Linked DNA regions of Homo sapiens: region 2 is linked to region 1. Evidence: fine-mapped expression QTL. Tissue or cell type: whole blood. Region 1 holds a variant in brackets; the other region holds the start of a gene. Each region is shown on its reference strand, or each on the opposite one.

Region 1 (2,918 bases):
TGGTGTGCTGCCCTCTACAAAACCAGGCTTGTGGGCTCACTAGTTCAAGAAGGCAGGACTGAAAAATGGAAACACCGTGGCTCCTAATTATCTAGACTGCCTCATCTCCTACCAGCCAGCAAAAATGATGTAGCCTCTGAGAATATTTACATCACTCATTTGTATGCCTTATCTTTGGTACAGGGAGTTGGGTGAACAGGAGAAAAAGCCAAAAAAGTTATAGAGGTTACAACATGAATCTTTAATCATAAGGGATTGTTCCATCAGGCTAATTTATAAAAAATAGCTCTACTGTTATTATAAAACTGAAAGATACTTTGTTACAAAGTAAAATACATAAAAGTACAACATATGTATTATACATTCAGAATCCCACCACTAGAGATAAGTAGTTATATGTCCTCTCCCACATCTTTTTTTCTCTGTTGCTCTAAACATACACACAGAAAAACATACTAACAAAATGGGGTCATGCTATAATTGTTGTTCTAAAACTCTCCTGGTTCACTAAATACTTCATGAGCAACCTGCATTGTCATTATCTGTGTGCCTGAAGATTTCTAGTGGCTTTCCATTGCATACATATGCCTGAACTTATCTAAAAAATTTCCTACCAATGGAAACTGGAATATTAACATTTGCTATTTTAAAAATGTTTTAAATTTAAAAACTCCACCTTCTGCATGCGTTTTTGCCCAAGTGGGCAACTATCTCCCAAGTATCAATTACTACATATTTACTGCCACTTCAAAGGTTATAGAAATTGAATTGATACGTTAATGAATTCTTTTGAAAACAATGCACGGATTTTCTCTCTCACCAATAAGTACATAAGACTTATTACGTCCATTTTTGCACTGCTATAAAGAACTACCTGAGACTAGGTAATTTGCAAAGGAAAGAGGTTTAACTCACACACAGTTCCACATGGCTGGGGAGGCCTCCGAAAACTTAGTCATGGCAGAACGCAAAAGAGAAATAAGGACCTTCTTCACAAGGGGACAGGAGAGAGACAGCGAGGAAGGGCTACACCTTAAAACCATCAGCTCTCATGAGAACTCACTATCATGAGAACAGCAAGGGAGAAATCTGCCCTCGTGATCCA[A/G]TCATCTCCCACCAAGGCCCTCCTCTGACACGTGGGGATTAAAATTGAGATGAGATTTGGGTGGGGACAAGAGCCAAACCATATCAGACTGTTTCTACAACCCCCCCCCCCGCCCCCACTGATGGGGGATTTGATGATTCTATTTTAATACTGCTAACCTGCAGGGTGAAATAGCATTTGTGATTTTTAAGATACCTAATATTTGATATGTTAAACTATGAAATGAACTGGAGCAAAACCATTATATTCATGACAGCAATAAAACAAATTCCTAGAAATATGCTTAAGATGACTCAGAACCTATTTTTAACCATCTCTAAGAAATATTACTGAGGGACCATATGAAATACTATCAGTGGTAAAAAAAAAGTCATTTTTTTAAAGTGAAAAAAAATCAGCATTTCAAAGACGCCACATTCTTTCAAAATTAACCTATAAATTCAATGCAATGCCAATTAATAAATTTATTTAATTAATAATTCAATGCAATGCCAATCAGATTTTGCTTTTTGAACCTGGAAAGAAGACATATTTCTGTAGTGTACTACAACTCCTCTGAAAGCTGTAAAGCTTACCTGCAAGATAAAACAGTCATAAAAACATGATAAAAATGTGAGACACACACATCACCCAGATCTGCCAAGAGAACTTTGTTCCTGGTCTTCTCAGAGTGACTTGTTTCAATAAATGTTAATGTTATCTTTTTGTTTTTATAAAGCGATCTTTAAAAAGATATGTACCAAACTGGTTTTAGAAAGGTGGAAACTTGTTTCTACACTGTCCCATTGGTAGCTATCAACCCACACAAAGAATCTATGTCCATAATTAGCACCTTGGAAACATTCTCACCACTTGTACATTGTAAAAGCTCCCTCCCAGGCAGATTCTGATGGAAGTGAGGATTATTACTGAAACCACTGCTGCACTGTTTCTTTAAAGCCTACTCCGCTGCACAACAGACTCTTAAAGACTGAAGTTTGTAACTGAAGTGCTAACCTATTTATCACACATCCAGGTGTTCCCTTCCTATGCAGACTAGAAAATGTAAAATCATCAGTTTCTCCTATAGCCCTCCTACATGTCACTTTCCTATGGTTTTTCTCCTGTGTTGGCTCTCAGATGGATAGAAAGCTCTGAGTCCCAGATGGAATCCTCTATGTACATCTACTTATAAGGGTTCTCGCCTAAATGCACTCTTTGGTGGTTCCGCAGACCTGAGGTATAACTGAAGCCTTTCCCACACACACCACACGTATAGGGCTTCTCTCCAGTGTGGACTCTCTGATGAACATGAAGACAGGAGTTGCGGCCAAAGCCCTTCCCACACTCCTCACATTTATAGGGTTTCTCACCAGTGTGGACCCTCTGATGACCTTGAAGATGTGAGCTCTGACTATAGCCCTTCCCACACACGTGGCATCTGTATGGCTTCTCGCCAGTGTGCACTCTCTTATGACTAAGGAGACCTGAGCCATATCTGAAACCCTTCCCACATTCACAACAAGTGTAGGGTTTCTCTCCTGTGTGCAACCTCTGGTGGGTGCGAAGATTAGAGCCATAACTGAATCCCTTGCCACACTGATCACACGTATAGGGCTTTTTTCCCGTGTGGACTCGCTGATGTTTGTGAAGGCTTGATGTGCACCTAAAGCCCTTTCCGCACTCTTGGCATCTGTAAGGTTTCTCGCCTGTGTGGACTCTCTGGTGAATGAGAAGCCCTGAGCTGTAACTGAAGCCTTTGCCACACTCAGCACATTTATAGGGTTTCTCTCCAGTGTGGACCCTCTGATGGATAAGGAGGTCGGAGCTGTAG
Region 2 (2,918 bases), not on the chromosome of region 1:
AAAGAGCACTTTTTACAAATATAGATGCCTAGGAAACAACTGGTAGGAATTACATCAAAATATTAACAAAGAATACAACTGGGTGTAGACTGGGGGGTTCTTTATACTTTACTGTATTTTCCAAAGTCTCTACAGCAGTGTTTCTCACACTTTAATAGGTAAACAAATCACCCAGTATGCTCGTTAAAATGCAGCTTCTGGGTTAGTAGGTGTGGGATTTTCAGATTCTGCATTTCTGATAGGTTCTCCTGTGATGCTGATGATATTGGCCCAAGGTCTACATTTTGAGTAGGAAGGTTTTAAAGCAGCATATCTGAACCAATATACTGGTTAACTGAGACCCACCCTCAGAGTTTCTGATTTCTTAAGTCTGGAGTAGGATCCTAGGATTTGCATTTCTAACTGTTTCCCAGGTGATGCTGACACTGCAGGTCTGGGGCCAGCACTCTGACAACCGGTGCTCTAGAATCTTTCTTTTTCTTAACATTAAGGAAGGGAGGGCACTAAAAAATATGTCAGGCTTCTCCATTGACTCCAAAATCAAATCCAAACTCTTCATCCAAAAGCCCCCATAATCCAACCCCGTCATTTCCCACTACTTCTCATTAGGCTATAAAATCAAACCACTATGCCCTAAACACACCTGAGATTTCAAACATCAGGACTTCCGCTGGATTTCCTCACTCCGGCTATGCCACTTCCTTCTACTTCTTCATGCCAAATCCTACCCAGCCTTCAAGGTCCTCAAATGCTATTTCCTCCATAAAGCCTCCTGATCTACCACTACTCAAAAAGCTACCTCTCCCTCCCCCCCTCAGGGCTGCACAGCACTTTTCGTTCCTCCCCAATGACAGGCACCATCTGTACCTGGTCCAGCGACTCTACCGGTGGGTGGTGTATCTTCGCCTGTAGACTGGGAGTTTCTTGAGGTCAGGGGAGTGACTTGCCTATCTTTGCCTCTTAGCCTTAGCAGATCCCCAGTAGACAGCTGACACTCAGAACCGACCAAAAGAAGGAAGGAATGGGACCTCCTGAGGAAGGGCACAGAACTGTCCTGTAAATGGAAACTAGACCGGACGCACGCCAAGCCGATGACCCACAGTAACAGGTGTTCTCCATCTCTGATGTCTGTGATTCATCCTGCACAGCTGCGCGCACACAGCACACGCATACACAGGCTCCCAGAATACGGCGCCCCACACGCTGTACCGCCCGTCGCGTTCTGGACGCCCCGGCGACCACACACACCGAGACACACCTCAGCGACAACCTGGATCCACAAAAAGGAGGCCCTGCCCCCTTAAAAAATACTAACACCTTACTGCAAAGAACTAGCAGCTACGGCTTGCGCCTGCGCCCCTTGTTCCCTGCCGCACCTTTTCTTGTAGTTAAGAAATCTATTTCTGCACGCATTTCGTCGCCGCCGCCCCCCATCCCTACACGCACGCACACACACACACACACACGCACACACACACACTCCCCTTCCCCTACACCTACCCCCCTCCCCCCACCTCCTTTCAGACTAGGCGCGCCTCGCAGAGCGGGATTGAATGGGAAAGAGCGGGGCCGTCTTTGTCATTAATCCTCCCCTCCTTCGGGCAAGCCAAGCTTCTTCCGGGTCAGCGACCATCCCCGCCACCCCACTCGGGGCCACGGTCCCCCCGCAGCGCTAGTCCCGGGCCCGCGAGCACCGGCCCCCGCCACCCGCAGGTTGCGGAGGGAGGAGGGCGGGAGCGGGCGGCGCGGAGCCGGGAGGCGGGGGAGGGGCCGGCGTCCGAGGCGGCGGCGGCGGCGGCTGGAGCAGCCTCTGGCAGCAGCGGGGAGAATGGGAGTGCGGGGCGCCAGACCGCCGCGGGGTGTCACGGCCGCCACGAAGCCTGCGAGGCGCGGGGCCGGCGCCCGCGGCTTTTAAACCCGGGAAGGCGCGGCGGCGGCGGCGGCGGCGGGCAGATCGCGGCGCGCACCAGGCGCCGGGGCGGCGGCCGAATGGAGAGAAAGGGCTCGGCGGCCGGGGCCAAGGGGAACCCGAGCCCGCCCGCGGCCGGAGAGGGGCAGCGGCCACCGCCGCCGCTGTGCGTCCCGGGCGGCGGCGGAGGAGCCCCAGCGAGGGGCCAGGTCGGGGCGGCGGCCGAGCCGGCCGAGCTCATCCGACGAGCGCACGAGTTCAAAAGCCAAGGGGCGCAGTGCTACAAGGACAAGAAATTCCGTGAAGCCATAGGCAAATACCACCGGGCGTTGCTGGAGCTGAAGGGGCTGCTGCCGCCCCCCGGGGAACGGGAGCGGGACTCGCGCCCGGCCTCCCCGGCTGGGGCCCTGAAGCCCGGCCGCCTCTCGGAGGAGCAGAGCAAGACGGTGGAAGCCATCGAGATCGACTGTTACAACAGCCTGGCAGGTGAGCCGCGCCGCGCCCCCCGCGCCGCGGTCCCCGTTCTTCGGCCCGGTCCCTCCGCGGACCACTGCGGCGCTCCCGCGGTGCAGATTCTCCTGCTGTGACTGTGTTGCTCTGGGGAGAACCCGGGAGGGAGGCGCTTTGGAAAAAGTGTGACTTTCAGGATTATGCCTTTCAAAGGCCATAATCATCTCTTGTCCCTTCGCTAGCATACATCGTAAATCTCACCTAGAAATGACTGGAAGGGGACCCAGCTGGCCTGGCTATGGCTGCTGCTGCTACTGCTCACCAGTGGACCTGGGTCCAAAATGCGGAAGCAGCGCCCGGGGTGGGCCCCCGCAGCCACCGCTAGCCCAGCTTTTTCCTGCGGGTGGGTCCCAAGGGAGGCCACGCACCTGTCTGCTCTCCTTAGGTAGCATGAGCACCAGGATTGGTCCTCGCCTTTTCCCCAACTAACCGCATCCCTGTAGGTAAGATCTTCCCCAAGTTTTTTGGCCCCAGTAGCAAAGGGGAGTTTGACACCATG

The links.
Region 2: TTC9 starts here. The variant in region 1 is fine-mapped to the expression of TTC9 in whole blood (TOPMed, PIP 0.98).

The regions. Positions count from the first base shown.
Region 1 is chr19:44,426,034-44,428,951 of GRCh38, forward strand. ZNF229 (zinc finger protein 229) reads right to left here. Exons shown (of 6, transcript NM_014518.4): 6 at 221-2,918. The coding sequence ends at 2,270. Among named protein-coding and RNA genes, the nearest start is that of ZNF229, 21 kb to the right of the region's middle. The variant A/G (reference allele first, on the strand shown) is at 1,106.
Region 2 is chr14:70,640,141-70,643,058 of GRCh38, forward strand. It overlaps TTC9 (tetratricopeptide repeat domain 9), which reads left to right and starts at 1,776. Exons shown (of 3, transcript NM_015351.2): 1 at 1,776-2,395. The coding sequence starts at 1,990. TTC9-DT (TTC9 divergent transcript) reads right to left here and starts at 1,158. Exons shown (of 3, transcript NR_110071.1): 1 at 868-1,158. RefSeq lists enhancers at 671-850, 951-1,210 and silencers at 1,681-1,830, 2,051-2,240, 2,261-2,330.